Linked DNA regions of Homo sapiens. The protein of the gene in region 2 interacts with the protein of the main gene of each other region in a pairwise test. Each region holds a gene or a part of one and is shown on either strand. Other genes may lie near its edges.

Evidence for each region.
Region 1: the proteins of GFI1 (region 2) and CHAF1A interact in binary tests that used the Homo sapiens proteins (3 or more experiments, as listed by UniProt).

The regions. Positions count from the first base shown.
Region 1 is NC_000019.10:4,419,529-4,427,013, reverse strand, and holds part of CHAF1A (chromatin assembly factor 1 subunit A), read right to left. Parts: intron 4,449-7,485; coding exon 4,219-4,448; intron 3,680-4,218; coding exon 3,619-3,679; intron 3,209-3,618; coding exon 3,140-3,208; intron 1-3,139. UniProt on the Homo sapiens protein: Acts as a component of the histone chaperone complex chromatin assembly factor 1 (CAF-1), which assembles histone octamers onto DNA during replication and repair.
Region 2 is NC_000001.11:92,483,811-92,492,236, reverse strand, and holds the start of GFI1 (zinc finger protein Gfi-1), read left to right. Parts: upstream 1-5,311; 5' UTR 5,312-5,511; intron 5,512-6,137; exon of another isoform or gene 6,138-7,791; intron 7,792-8,422; exon of another isoform or gene 8,423-8,426. UniProt on the Homo sapiens protein: Transcription repressor essential for hematopoiesis. Functions in a cell-context and development-specific manner. Binds to 5'-TAAATCAC[AT]GCA-3' in the promoter region of a large number of genes.

The DNA.
Region 1 (7,485 bases), on a different chromosome or scaffold from region 2:
GTTGGGCGATTCTCCTGCCTCAGCCTCATGAGCAGCTGGGATTACAGACGCCTACCACCACGCCCGGCTAATTTTTGTATTTTTAGTATTTTTAGTAGAGACACCTTGTTGGCCAGGCTGGTCTCAAGCTCCTGACCTCAGATGATTCACCCGCCTTGGCCTCCCCAAATGCTGAGATTACAGGCATAAGCCACCGCACCTGGCCAAAAGGAGAAATTTCAGTATAATGAAAGACACTGTAGCTGGGCGTGGTGGCTCACACCTGTAATCCCAGCACTTTGGGAGGCCGAGGTAGGCGGATCACCTGAGGTCAGTAGTTCAAGACAAGCCTGACCAACATGGAAAAACCCCGTCTCTACTAAAAATACAAAATTAGCTGGGCGTGGCAGCACATGCCTGTAATCTCAGCTACTCGGGAGGCTGAGGCAAGAGAATCATTTGAACGCAGGAGGCAGAGGTTGTGGTGAGCTGAGATCATGCCACTGCACTCCAGCCTGGGCAATGAGCGAAACTTTGTCTCAAAACAAACAAACAAAAAACAACAAAGGCCGGGCACGGTGGCTCACACCTGTAATCCCAGCCCTTTGGGAGGCCGAGGCGGGCGGATCACAAGGTCAGGAGATCGAGACCATCCTGGCCAACACGGTGCAAACCCCGTCTCTACTAAAAATACAAAAAATTAGCGGGGCATGGTGGCGGGCGCTTGTAGTCCCAGCTACTCGGGAGGCTGAGGCAGGAGAATGGTGTGAACCCAGGAGGTGGAGCTTGCAGTGAGCCGAGATGGCACCACTGCACTCCAGCCTCAGCAACAGAGTGAAACTGTGTCTCAAAAAAAAAAAAAAAAAAGACTGTAAACAAAGAGGTAACAGGCTGAGACGAAATATCACGGAGAATGAAATACTAGACTATGTTAAAAAAAACTTACAGATCAGGCAAAGAAAAAAAAAGAAAATCCTGTAGAAAAATAGGTAAAAAAATAGGAATTGGCAAGTCATAGAAGAACTAAAATGGCAAACGAACAGAAAAAGATGCTCAACTGCACCAAGAGTCAAGTAAAAATGGAAAGTAAAACAATGTCAATTTTTAAAAATCCATCAGACTGGCAAAGTTAAAAGAAAATTAATCCCATAAAAATTGCAGTGATAGCAGAGAATGGGGAGGAAATTTCCACACATCGCCGGGAATGTACATCTGAGTTTCCCATCTGGCACGCACTCTGGCCATGGCTCATGATGCTTCAGCAATATGCTATTTTGTCCTAGAGGTGAACTCATGCTTACTTGGCTGTCCCAGAGGAATGCATGTGTGCAGAGAAGCATGTGCAGGGACCCCCCCTACACCACTGAGGGGCAAAGAGGTTGAGATAGTGGCAGGCTCTGTGGCTCATGCCTGTGATCCTAGCACGGTGGGTGGCCAAAGCGAGAGAAATGCTTGAGACCAGGAGGTCGAGACCAGCCCTGGCAACACAGTGAGACCCAGTCTCTACTAAAAATAAAATTAGGGAGGCTGAGATGGGCAGATCATCTGAGGTCAGGAGTTCAAGACCAGCCTGGCCAATATGGTGAAACCCCGTCTCTACTAAAAACACAAAAAATTAGCTGGGAGTGGTGGCAGGCACCTGTAATCCCAGCTACTCGGGAGGCTGAGGTAGAAGAATTGCTTGAACCCGGGAGACAAAGGTTAGAGTGAGCCGAGAGATAGCGCCACTGCTCTCCAGCATGGGTGACAGAGCAATACTCCGTCTCTAAATAAATAAATAATTTTTGTAAAAAAAGAGAGAAACCATATCATTGCATTATGAAGTATTATGCGGCAGTGAAAATACATGATGTGGATCTCTGGCTGTCACAATATGATGTGTAGGTACAACAATGTCACATTGTGCACCTTCAGGATACACAATTGCCATCAAATGTCTCAACATACAAATAAAAGGACAGGCCAGGTGCAGGGACTCACACCTGTAATCCAAGTGCTTTGAGAGGCCGAGGTTTGGAGGATCATTTGAAGCCAGGTCGTCGAGACCAGCCTGGGCAACATAGCAAAACCCAGTCTCTACAAAAAAAAATTAAAAAATTAGGCCGGGCACGGTGGCTCACGCCTATAATCCCGGCACTTCGGGAGGCTGAGGCGGGCGGATCACCTGAGGTCAGGAGTTCAAGACCAGCCTAGCCAACATGGTAAAACCCCGTCTATACTAAAAATACAAAAATTAGCCAGGTGTGGTAGCATGTGCCTGTAATCCCAGCTACCTGGGAGGCTGACACAGAAGAATCACTGGAACCCGGGAGGTGGACGTTGCAGTGAGCTGAGATCGCACCACTGTACTGCAGCCTGGGTGACAGAGTGAGACTCCATCTCAAAAAAAATAAAAATAAAAAATTAGCCAGGCATGGTGGCACATGCCTGTAGTCCCAGCTACTCGGGAAGGCTGAGGTGACAGGATCACCAGACCCTGAGAGGTCAAGGCTGTGGTGAGCTTTGATTGTGCAACTGCACTACAGCCTGGGTGACAGTGAGACCCTGCCTCAAAAAATAAATAAAGGCCAGATACATTAAAAAGAATGAAATACATCTAAATGTGGCAACATGGCACAAATCTGAGATAGCTAAGTACACATGTGTATAAATACAGTGAGTGGAGCAGGGAAAGGCACTGAAGGACCCCTAACATTGGAGATGGGCTCCCTCTGGGTAAAGGGGAAGGAGGGCTGTGGTTTCCATGCACAGATGGTGGCTCAGAAGGTCTGAGATGCCAGGTGACCGACGCCAGGCAGGGAAAGTAAACCTTTGTGAATTGTACTGTTGTTTTACAGCTAAACGTGCTCCCTCCTTAAGCCTAAGTTTCCCAAGGGTAAAAACATGGTGAATTTCTCTTACGCCTAACACAAAATTATTCATGAAGTAACCTCTGAAAACAGCACTGTTTAATCAGACATGCCACTTTTTACCTCTTTGGGACAAAGCGAAGGACAAAATATTGAGCCTCAAGACTTAACCAGAAATGGAAGTGCCCTAGGTCACTGGAGGCTCCCTCCCTCCTAATGAGAGAAGCTGGCTGGGGAGAGACCCTTTCACTTTCAGAAAGGAAAAGTCTAGCAGAGCTGAAACCCAAAAGCAAAGGCAGCCGGCTGCTCACCTTGGGGGCCTGTGGAGTCTTTGGTTTCTGGAAGAACCTCGTGATTTCGGCCTTCTCTGCTTTAATGCGCTGTGATGTTAAGAGATGGTGATGAGAAAGAGGAGAGGAAGAGGAACAGTATGTGTTGCAAAACATGCAAAGGCCCCCAGAACCGAACGTCAAGCATTTTAGCTTGAAGGCACTACTGTGATTTTCAGCTCTCAAAACCCACGGACCCGCAACTGAGCCAGCCAATCTCAAAATGTCCAAGTTGCCCTTGTGGGTAGAAGTGCCAGGATTGCAGGGCCAGTAGGCATGTGACAGCCAGCACTGGGAAGAAGCAACAAGAACGCATCTAGACAGACTCGCCCTCCCTGCGGGCGCCATTTGGTTTCCCCAAACCAAGAGAATATTAGGTGACGGCTGTGGCAAGAATTCCACTTTGGGCATCTGCTTCTCCAACGGGCTGGGACGGGGAAGCTCTGTGGGAAACACTCTACCTTCTCTTCTTCTCTTAACCGTTTCTCTTCTTCCTTTTTCCTTTTTTCCTCAAGTTTAGCCCTGTGAGACAGCAAATGACATTTCAGCCGACTCTTTGCTTTGGCTCTGGAAGGGACCGCAGCACTCAACTGTTAGTATATGGCAAGTATTTCATTTTACATTAAATGAATATAAGTTATTTTCATGTCTAGTATAAGGCTTTTACATAGGTCTTCACAATAAAAATGGAAAACAGTCAATAAAATTCTTCCTGTGACTAGAATATATATAAAAAACTTTAGCCAGTCAGAGCACAATTAGCACAGACAAAACCCACAATCCTGCAATGCAAATGCCTAAGTTGGTTGGGAACTGGAAGGATGGTCACAGCAGAGACAAGGGGTCCAGGGTGAGTTGGACGTGGGGGAGCACTAAAGAGCAGGGAGCTGCTTTCCACCGCTCCCACGTCAGGGCCCCACGGGCACCTCACGAAGGAGAAATGGGAAGGAACTGAAGGGAGCCGCCATCTGCCTGTGAAGTGGAAAGGCCCCATCAGAGTGGCCAGGAGCGGAATCCAGCAGCAGGGTGGCGGGCCCAGCATGGCCTCCAAGGACACTCACTCCAGGGCTTCCTGTCTCTCCTTGCGCCGCTCCTCCTTGAGCCGCTGCTTCTCCGCCTTCTCCTTCTCATCCTTCTCCCGCTTCTCCCGCCTCTCCTTTTCCTTAAGCTCCTTCTCTTCCTCCTTCTTCTTCTTGGCCTCCTCCTTGGCCCGCTTGGCCTCCTCTTTCAGCTTCTCCTTTTCTTCCCTTTCTGCACGTAACTTGAGCTGCTTGCCCAGACGCTCCTGATCCTACAAGACAGTGTGGCAAGTGACAGGTGGCCCTCCCTCCAACTCCCAGGAGGAAGCTCGGTTCACAGCATGGAGGACAGCACGGCCTGGACGGGATGAACAGAATTGAGGGACCAAGGCTAGGCATGGTGGCTCACGCCTGTAATTCCAGCACTTTGGGAGGCTGAGGTGGGTAGATCACCTGAGGTCAGGAGTTTGAGACCAGCCTGGTCAACAGGGTGAAACCCTGTCTCTACTAAAAATACAAAAATTGGCTGCGCGCGGTGGTTCACGCCTGTAATCCCAGCACTTTGGGAGGCCGAGGCAAGTGGATCACCTGAGGTCAGGAGTTCGAGACCAGCCTGGCCAAGATGGTGAAACCCCATCTCTACTAAAAATATTTTTAAAAAAAACTAGCCAGGCATGGTGGGCGCCTGTAATCCCAGCTACTGGGGAGGCTGAGGCAGAAGAATTGCTTGAAACCAGGAGACGGAGGTTGCAGTGAGCCAACACGGTGCCACTGCACTCCAGCATCAGTGACAGAGTGAGACTCCATTTAATAAAAAAAAAAAAAAAAATTAGCCAGGCGTGGTGGAGGGTACCCGTAGTCCCAGCTACTCAGGAGGCTGGGGCAGGAGAATCACTTGAACCAGGAGACGTAGGGTGCAGTGAGCTGAGGTCACACCACTGCACTCCAGCCTGGGCAACTGAGACTCAGTTAAAAAAATAAATGAATAAATAAGAATTCAGAGACCAGCTCCAGGAGGAGCCTCCAGTCAACAACTTTACACAGAAGTGATTTTATTTTTCTTGAGACAAAGTCTACTCTGTTGCCCATGGTGGAGTGCAGTGGTGCAGTCATAGCTGGCTGCAGCCTCGACCTCCCAGGCTCAAGTGATCCTCCCACCTCAGGCTCCTGAGTAGCAGGGGCTATAAGCACACACCACTATACCCAGCTATTTTTGTAATTTTCCTAGAGATGGGGTTTTGCTGTGTTGCCCAGGCTGGTCTTGAACACGTGGCCTCAAACAATCCTTCTGCCTTAGCCTCCCAAAGTGTTGGAATTATAGGCATGAGCCCCAGCACCCAGCCACAGAAGTGATTTTCATAATCCATTATGCTTCCTTCCATCATGAGAAAAATGTTAAGAATTAGCCCTGTGTCCTGGTACTTGTGGGAAATTCAATATAAGATTCATTTAAAACACAATCCTGCTGGGCTGAGGGGGCTCACACCTATAATCCCAGCACTTTGGGAGGCTGAGGCAGACAAATTGCTTGAGGCCAGAAGTTTGAGACCAGCCTGGCCAAGAAGGTGAAACCCCAAGTCTACCAAAAATACAAAAAAATTAGCTGAATGTGGTGGCGCACACCTATAGTCCCAGCTACTCAGGAGTCTGAGGCACAAGGATCGCTTAAACCCACAAGGCAGTTCAAGATCACGCCACGGCACTGCAGCCTGGGTGACAGAGCAAGACTCTGTCTGAAAAACAAAACAAAAAAACATTATTTATTTATTTGGAGATAGAGTCTCATTCTAGTGCCCAGGCTGGAGGGAGTGCAGCAATGCTATCTTGGCTCACTGCAACCTCCGTCCTGGGCTCAAATCAGTCCTCCTGCCTCAGCCTCCCGAGTAGCTGGGACCACAGGCACCTGTCACCACACCTGGCTAATTTTTGTAGAGATGGAGTCTCACTATGTTGCCCAGACTGATCTTTAACTCCTGCGCTCAAGCAATCTGTCCACCTCAGCCTCCCAAAGTGCTAGGATTACAGGCATGACCCATTGCAACCAGCCCAGGAATTCTTTTTCTTTTTAGTAGAGACACTACGTTGCCCAGGCTTGTCTCAAACTCCTGGGCTCAAGAAATCCTCCCACTTTGGCCTCCCAAAGTGTGGGATTATGGGGGCGAGCCACTACGCCCAGCCTTGTTTCAAATTCTTTAAGGAAGTAACACTTCATCACTACGTTCCTCATTCCAAAGACTTGGCAGTGGCCTGGGACACTCAGTCATTACGTAATCTGAAGTTCAATGTTAAACATGCTCAGCCAGGCGCAGGCTCCCACCTGTAATCCCAGCACTTTGGGAAGCCGAGGCAGGCGGATTACTTGAGGTCAGGAGTTCGAGACCAGCCTGGCCAACATGGTGAAACCCCGTCTCTACTAAAAATACAAAAATTAGCTGGGCATGAAGGCACGTGCCTGTAATCCCAGCTTCTTGGGAGACCGAGGCAGGAGAATCGCTCGAACCTGGGAGGTGGAGGTTGCAGGGAGCCGAGATCACGCCGCTGCACTCCAGCATGGGCAACAGAGCGAGACTGTCTCAAAATAAAAAAAAAAAACGCTCACCTGCCCAGCTCCACAGGTGCCCGCTCCTAACACTGCATGAGGACCACCTCTCATCCAATATGGGCTTCCCACACGTCTGGAGCCTGACAGCTCAGCTTTCAGTTTGGGTTAGGATATCTGCCCTTGTCTCTAAGGAAAAATTCTAAATGTGTTCCAATACATCTCTGGTAGCTTTAACAAAAGCCACAGAGACACAGCCTGGAAGATGTCTGATGTGCATTTCCTGCCAGTGTGCTGTGTGACTGCATCTGATATACGAGACACACGAGGAAGGTGACCGTCTGGACTGAACAAGGAGACTATAAACATAACTGGGTGAAGAGTCTCCCACCCTGTTGCTAAGCAGGAAATAGAAGGCTTCTAGAAACTGCAGGTGAATCAGATTTCTTCAGCCGCCGTTGGATACTTTCTCCGCTCCCCAACCCGGTGTGCGGGACTCGGAGGTTCCAATGAGCTTTAAAAGTGCTCTTGTTCCAAAGAATGAGATAAACTGTAAAAATAAAAATCAGGCTGGGCGTGGTGGCTCACACCTGTAGTCCCAGCACTTTGGGAAGCCAAGGTGGGTGGATCACCTGAAGTCAGGAGTTTGAGACCAGCCTGACAAACATAGCGAAACCCTGTCTCTACTAAAAATACAAAAAATTATCCAGGCGTGGTGGCTCGTGCCTATAATCCCAGCTACTCGAGAGGCTGAGGCAGGAGAATCGCTT
Region 2 (8,426 bases):
TGGGTTGGGCCTTGCAGCAGGAGAGGAGGGAATGTGTCTCTCCTCCACCATCCCATCCTTACTACCTCTCAAGTCTGTGACAGGCACGTGACTTTTGGCTCCAGGCTTTTCTACCCTATGCTGGATGTGAAACAAGTAATGTGATTTGGTGGAAAGAAACAATATTTGGAATCAACAGATTTGGTTGGAATAAGAAAGCTGCTAGTTATCAGAACCTGGGCTTCTTAAACCACTGGTGTCTCCCCCTTTTTTTTTTCCCTTCCTTTCCCACGTATGGACCACTGGTGTCCTTATCCATAAAACAGAAATGACCAGAATGCCTGCCTTGGAGAACTCCCAGCATTTCTTTCTCTTCTATGAAGCCCAGGATAGCAGCTGAGGTGGAACATCCAGTGGGCTGCATCTACCTATCATCAGTTCATGCTGTCCTTCTGTCTGTCTCTTTGGGCGAGCCTGAGGTTGTTCATGTGGGATGATCCTCCAAGCCCCGCCTCATGCAGACAGCAGCGGCCAGAGATTTTCAGAAGCCTCAACTCCCACCTTACCTCCAGATATGGGGTCATATATTTCCTTTAAGGGAGTTGTGTTTTGTGAGTAATTTTTAAAATTTACAATATATAGGCTGTACTATTTTAAAGTGAAGTGTTTCATCTGGGGTAGGGTGAACTAATCACCAAACATACTGGAGGAAATGGTGAAAAACTCAAAAGAAAGATAATTTTTGCATTTTCTCTCGTTTGATTTTCCATTCACAAAGCAAACTATACTCCTTTTTTTTCCTATAAAAGTTCACACTGGCTGTGTTTCTATGAGGAGTCATATCACATAGCTCACAGTAAGATGACACTTCGTTCAATCTATTCTTAGGAACAATGTAAAAATACGTATGTGGTGAGATTAACAATTTTCTTATTTGAACTCTGAACACCAAAGCTGACAGTCTCCTCCCTCTTCAGATGTTTGAAATCCTTTATGTAAAAGCCTAATTTAAACTTTATAGTAATAGATAATATTTTTAAATGTAATGAGATTTAAATATATCAGTCCCAAAATGTTTATTAAAAGCAAATGTTTTTCTTCATGTTTGAAAAGTAAAAAATATTAATACAAAGTTGGTTCTTATACCTTAAGTCTTCTATTAACTTATCTCCATGTTTCTCCTTTACTTAATTTCCCAATTTTTGCATGAGCTGGTACAAAAAACATTACCCACTTCCCACAAATGATGGTACCATTAAATCGTATTCTGACTTATGGTGTCAGTGGAATTCTATTTTGATAGCCTGCTTCTTATAAGATTAGAAGGGGATAATTATATTACCTGTCATTCAAGTTAAGGCATCACACAGTTATCAGTTTGCATTTATTTTCTTTGAATTAATACAATTAAAATATATGTAATTCTTATTTCAGTTTGACTACACCTATCATGACACCTAATCCAAAGACAAAAATTAAATAGTTTGTTAGTATACATGAGGATAAAACCATGGCAATATGACAGGGTGTGGTTCTAACAAGTACTTCCTGTACATAAAATAAAGACCAGTTCTATATCTGGTCTTTAATCCAAGTCAAACTTTTCCTTAGTTTATTTTTGTAGTCTTTTAACTGTTAAGTGGTATGAATTCTTTTGGCTTATGCATTACATAAGCGCCATCCATAAAACTTGTTCTGGTATGTATCAAGGACCGTACAAATAATCATTGTTGGATCTAGAAATTTCACCCCTAAAAATATATCCTAAGGAAATAATTCCAAATGTAGGGAAAGCTATATTCAAAAATCTTTTCATTGTATTACTTAAAATAGTAAAAACTCGAAACAAGCTAAATAGTAAGATGAGAGTGATTGAGTAAATTATAGTAAACTAGCTGATAGAACTTTTTTATAGCAATTGAAAATGAAAGATTGTATATAAAAAGCAAGGAAGATGATTGTCATGATTTTTATTTAAATAATTTTTACTATAAAAAGTTTATATTCCATTTAAGAAAACAGGAAAATAAAGAGAATAGAAAAAAGAAAAATAATTATAATATTCGGGAAGAAAAGCAGACTACTCAGTTGTATCTGTAATACGATTATAATTTTTGTTAAATAATAGAGCAAGAATACTTGAAAGTTGTTTTACAGAGTTTTATTCTTTTCTTATCAGATATATGTAGCATAATTTGTAATATAGTCTTATTTATATTATTATTTATAATATACAAATAATATAGCATAATTTCTTATACGTTTATATTTAAAACTCAGAAACCCTCATTTGGAGCATTCTCCCATTCTTGCTGCCCAAATGAACAGGTAAAGAGTGCAAATTAAAAGATTGTTCCAGCTGGGCATTGTGGCTCATGCCTGTAATCCCAGCACTTTGGGAGGCTGAGGCAAGTGGATCACGAGGTCAAGAGTTCAATACCAGCCTAGCCAACATGGTAAAACCCCGTCTCTACTAAAAATACAAAAATTAGCTGGGCGTGGTGGTGCATGCCTGTAATCCCAGCTACTCGGCAGGCTGAGGCAGGAGAATCGCTTGAACCCGGTAGGTGGAGGTTGCAGTGAGCAGAGATCACGCCACTGCACTCCAACCTGAGCAAAAGAGCAATACTTCATCTCAAAAAAAAAAAAAAAAAAAAGGTTGCTCCACAGTCTTGCGTGGTAGGTACCAGTATTCCGACTTTACAGGTGAGAAACAGGCTGAGAGTTGAGCTAACTTATCCAAGGTCTCAAAGCTGGTACTAGCAGAACAGAGATTGACAATCACATCTTACTAGCTTTTGAATGCCTGAACTCTTTTTTCCCTTCCTGGTATCATCATGGTGAGAATCAAATGAGGCAAACATAGAAATGTATTCTGGAAATGGGGGTATTGCCCCTCCCTGGGGTTTCAGGATCACCCACTTTTCCCATGCCGTCCCACAAAGGACAGAGATCATAATTGTAAAGCTTTGTGAAAAAATAAACAAGATACTGGTAATATCCTGTTACAATTTTCTTTTTGAAAATGTCTCAGCCAGGCACAGTGGTTCACGCCTGTAATCCCAGCATTTTGGGAGGCTGAGGCAGGAGGATCATTTGAGGCCAGGAGTTTGAGACCAGCCTAGGCAACATAACGAGACTCCATCTCCACTTTTTTTTTTTTAATGTCTCAAATCTTCTGTTGTAGGGAAATTCTGATCTATGAGAGGCTGCTTGAAATAAATGGGCTACTGGCCAAGGCTTGGAAATGTTTGTGGTATGAGAAGGTCAGTTGTTATTTGGCATCGACAGATACATTATTATTGCTATTTAGAAACAATTAGTTTCTAAATATTTGAAACAATTAGTTTCAAATTATTGAAAAGGCAGTAAATGTAAAATTATTCCTTTGGAAAGACCCTATTTATAGAAAATTGTGCCTCAGGTATACATTTTGCTTACCATTAGATCTATTTCAATTCCAAAGGAATATATGGAGGGAGAGGGAGTATTTGTAGCTTCTAAAAATGTTCATGGAGGGGTGGCTTATTCTCTTTGCCCTTAGTTTAATAGAAGCAAGAGGTAGTTTGGAGTAGCAGGAAGTCAGAGATGGGTTCATTGTATCGTTATTTCTAGTCCTAGCTCTTCACTGTCCTTGGCAAGGTTCTTAACCTCTCTGGGTTCCCCTCTTCTTACCTTTCTCCTATTCTTCCCCAAGTGTGGGAGTCACACTTCAACACTATACACCCGGGAGTGTTGTGTTGTTAAAAAGTATTGTTAAATACTTTTTAAACGTGTTGAATACTTGTTAAATACTTTTTAAATGTGTATTTATTTATTTGAGTTAGTACTACATACACATGGTTCAACATGTAAAAGACATAAAGGGAAATTCAGTGCCATCTCCCTCCCACCTGCTCCTTTCTGCGTGTCCCTGTTCCAGTTCTCAGTTTTCTTTTTCAAACTCAGAAATCCCAAGAGTCTGTGAAGGGCAAATGAAAAGCAAAATGACTAGACTAAATCTGAATGAAAGGGATTTATTCTAAGGTGATACTGCTCACTGCTCAAGGTGCTTATCTGCCCCCTTCATGGGCTCCCTCAAGTTTTCTGAGACTTCAAACAGCAACACTCAACTAAACTATAAAATAGTCACAGCACCTTTTCGAGAAATTTTGACTTTGAACTTGCTAATATGCAAAGGAAATAGTCCAACCATTTCTCTAGAACTTGGTTGATAAGAAATTTTATTTTGTCCCATTTATAATTTTATTCTAAAAATTTGTTTTTTTCTGCTATCGAGTAGGAGAGAAGGGAATAAGGGAAAGATTTGTTTTTGCACTACTGTGAGATTTTTATACCTTAGGCCAGGACAAAGCACACAAGAAATAAAATATTAACAAAATGTCCTTAATTTTCCTTTCTGACCAAAATTGCTTGCCTCTGCATTTATATATAAAGAAGGGATGTGTTGAGCAAATGAAGGAGGACAGCTAGGCAGACAAGATTTGCCCAGCGCCTGGCATACAATAGGGGCACAGGTCATTGCTTAACAAAACGTATAATTTATTAATACATGCTCGAAGCACTGCTATACTAACCAAATATTCCCTGCAAAATTTTAAATTTACAGTGCAAAATAAGAATAATTTAAAAACTGTTTCTAGAAAAAGAGCTTTAAGGGCTTCCCCCCCCATAACAATTTAAGATTAACCTAGAACATGGTAGTTATTTTGCAAGAACTGGGGAGCACCACTCTCTTCTCCTTGTGCATGTCTGACATTGGAGGCCTATTGTGCACGAAGTTGTGATCAAAATCCAAGTCAATTCATTTTGAAAAGTAACATGACTACAACATCCATCCACTCCAATGAGCAAAGGGTGTAGGCTTTGAGTATACACAGCAGGCCACACACTATGGGTCATGGCATACAGTCTAGCGTTGGAGGTTGCTGCATTTGTTCATGTATCTATGAGTTAGGTTTTAAGTTTTTTCCCCCTGTTCTATTAATATAATTAATTAGTTAATTAACCCCACTCATTCATTTACTCAGTCCACAGCCTTTTGTTAAGAGCCCGCCTAGGACATAAAGATGAAGATCCAGTGCCTACCCTCATGAAACATAGAATCCGAGCGAAGAAGGCTTACTTTGCAATAGTCATCCAAGTGGTGCTTTTATGGCGCTTTACTGCTCCCGCCAACACCCAGTGCCTGGGTATGACCTCAGGCGGTGGCAGAGCCCGCGTGCGAGGTCCCGCTCTCCCTGGCTTGCCCCGGCAGGGCGGAGTCAGCCTAGCAGCCGCCGGCGCTGCCCCCGCGCGGCCTTTAATTTTGCAGCTCCGACCACCGGAAATTAGTCGAAGGCTGAGCGGACCCGGTCGAGAGCCGGCGAGCTCCGCGCAGGGAGGGTGCGCCCACCGGTCCCGCCGGGCGCCCGCGGGACGCGCCGCCAGGGCCCTCTCCGCCGGGGGCTCGGCGCTCGCCCACCTCTTCCAAATTTAACCATTACCTAAATCCGAAGGGAAATGAGCAAACCTCTCGGATTGGGTGTCAAGGTATTTTCAGCCTCGTTGGGCGTATTTATCCCCAAGTGTTTCCACAACAAGCTATTTCGGGGCCTGCGGGGCAGGTTTCGCTCTGCGGACGCCGTGGCCACTCGCCGGGCTCCAGGCCGGCGGCACCGCGGGCCGGTGATTCACGGTCCCGACCCGGGGGTGGTGCAGCCCTAGGAGGCGGCGGGGTCGGGGGTGGGGGGGGCGGGTGACCGAGGCCTGAGGGGCGGGGAGGGTCCTCGGAGCGGGGCGCCCCCCACCCCTCTCTCGCCAGTCAATCTGTGTCCTCAATCTGTGGCTTCTCTCGCTGCGGAAGTCTCCCTGGAGCCAAGAATAGTTCATTTTCTTTCAAGTCATTTCTAGTGCCTAAGTGTCCGGACCTCCAATTTCCCCCATCCCCTGCCGACCCACAGGGAGAGAACTGGGAGGACTACTAAGGGGCGCGCGGGACGGGCTGGAAAGGCCAGGCCCCCCACCGCCTGGCCACTTGCGCAAAGGAGCGCGCCCGGCCGCCCGACGGGGGTTGGGAGCAGGTCTGGGAGGGCTATGCGAGCGACTCAGTAACGCTCAGGAAGTGAAGCTTGTGGTTTTGGGGGCTGAGCTCGGAAGGAGAATTTTTTTTTTTTTTAAGTCAGAGAGATAGAGCGGTCTCTCCCGAAAGCAAGATTCCGTTTGAAAACTCTCCTAGCGCGGTGCCCGCGCCGTGACTCCGCAGGTAGGTCCGCCGAGCCTGTTCTGCGCCTCCTGCCCTGGTGGGGGCGGCCGCGGGGACTCGCAGAGCACTGGCACTGCGGGGGCGATCAGAGGGCGCGGGCGGTTTCCCACCTGCTGCGGACCGCCGTGCGGGAGCCCAGAGAGCTCCGGCAGCTGGGTTAGGGCGCGACCCGCGCAGTGTGACTGGAAATCTGGAGCTGGGGGCGCGCAGCAGGCGGTCTGGTGGTTCGGCAGGGGAGCCAAATCCACCAGGGAAGGAAACATCTGGTGGGGAGGCGGCGGCAGCTGCGCTCGGGAGGACGCCCCCTTAGCGCCCTCGGCTCCCTCCTTCCTGGGCCCGGACGGTGAGGAGAGGCCTGAGCGCGCGGAGGGGCCGCCCCACCTCCCGCGCCAGCTGCAGCGCGGGGTTGCCTTCCCACGCGCTCGGCCCAGGCCCCGGGGCCCCTATCTCCTCCAAACTCTGTCGCTCCCCACAGGAACCAGCAAAGCGGGCCGGGGTGCGAGAGAGGCGTGGGCTTACAGCCCGGGTGGGGAGGCGGCCTCCGCGTCCGCCTGGTCTCTGGTGGCGCCAGCCCAGACCCAGCTCCGGCGCTGACAGTTACCCCGCCCCCATCTGTCCCGCTCCCAGCCAACGTGGGTCCAAGCTGCAGCGGGACCCTCGGGACAACGCCACTCCGTTTTTCTTTTCTTCCGAGTTTCGTGGCTGTTTAAAGAATTGGGTTTGGGGTTTGTGGCGTCTAATTGTACGGACGAGAAGTGCAGGAAGCGACAAAGCTCTAGCCCTAGGAGCCACCCCGGAGGGAGGCGGATGGCACTCTCACCCCTAGGGGCATTCTGGCGCTTGGGTAGCGGGAAACTTCGCGGGAGCCCCGCGACACGTCCCAGGCGTCTTTTCTCCCAGGTCTATTCCCATTCCTCCGGAGAAGGGGACACAATGGGGCTGGGGATCTGGAGCAGGGGGCCTGCACCCTACAGGGACCAAGGCCTGTAGGACTCGTTTGAGCTGAGAGCGCCAACGGACAGACGTAGACTGTGTGGCCTGCATCTTGCCTAGGAAGCCGAGGGGCTCCTAGTCCGGCAGTGGAAACAGCGCGAAGCCGGAGGACTGCAGGTCCTGCCCCGGCCCAGAGTTCCCAGCACCCTCGTTTCTGAACCAGCCGAGGCCACGGAGAACTGCTGTACTGCAGCTCACGTGTGAACCCGGTCACCATCGCCTTCACCCCGGGAGGAAGGCAGATTCGTTTACTCCAGACCACCTCGACTGTGGGGTACCGCCCCCGGAGCCGGCTGGAGCCTAGCGGCAGGCGCAGCCACGCCCTCCCGCTGCGCTCAGATTTCGACCTGGTATTAGGTGAACTGATTGGGGGTTAATGAGAGCGACGCCCCGGGCAGCTAGTTCCCTCCCGGGCCCGGGCCCGACCCCCGCTCTCTGCTAATGCAGCCTGCGCGCTCTGGCGTCCTGTCTTTTTTGTCTGCTAAATTGTCGGTGCACTACCGACTCGGGACACCTAGCATTTCCCAGTCAACGTTCGTGGATCGGGCTCCACCTCCCTAGGACAAGATTTTTTGGTGAGCAGAACGGAAAGTGCTTTTTTCCCGGGACCTGATTCCCGAGGTTAGGTCTCCATGGTCTGGGATGGCTCGCCGCAGCCTCGACCGGTGCCCGCCGCAGCCGGGAGTCCAAGGGCAAAGTTTCTCCTACGTGGGGCACTAGTGAGGGGCGAGTGGGATCACCCAGATGCGAGTTTCTCCTGGGGCGGGGGTTGGTCGTCTGTTGTTCCCCTCACTTTCCTGTCCCTTTGCTCTCCCACCTCCTTTCTCTGGCCTCTGCTGTCCCCAATCCCTCTGCTGCTGTCCTCCCGCCGCCCCACAGTTTTATCTTGTGTTCTGTTCCCCCCTCCCCCCGGTCCTTTCACTCCAGTTGGTAGCTGGCTCTTGGAGGTCTTGGCTCCTTGCCCCTTCCGGGTCCTCGACCACTGGGCATCCCCGGCCCCTAAACCGATCCGCGTGTCCCCGCCCTCCCTCGCCAGCCGTAAAGCACAGCCAGGCAGGCGATGAGTAGCTGAGTTGGGGTAACCCACCCGATGGGAACTACAGCTCTCCAGGGAGTTTGATTGCCGGAGCGAGCTTCGCTAGGAAAGGGGAGGAGCTGGGGGGCGTGGGCAGGGAGGAGGAAAGGGGCCTGAGACAGGGCCCCGGGACAG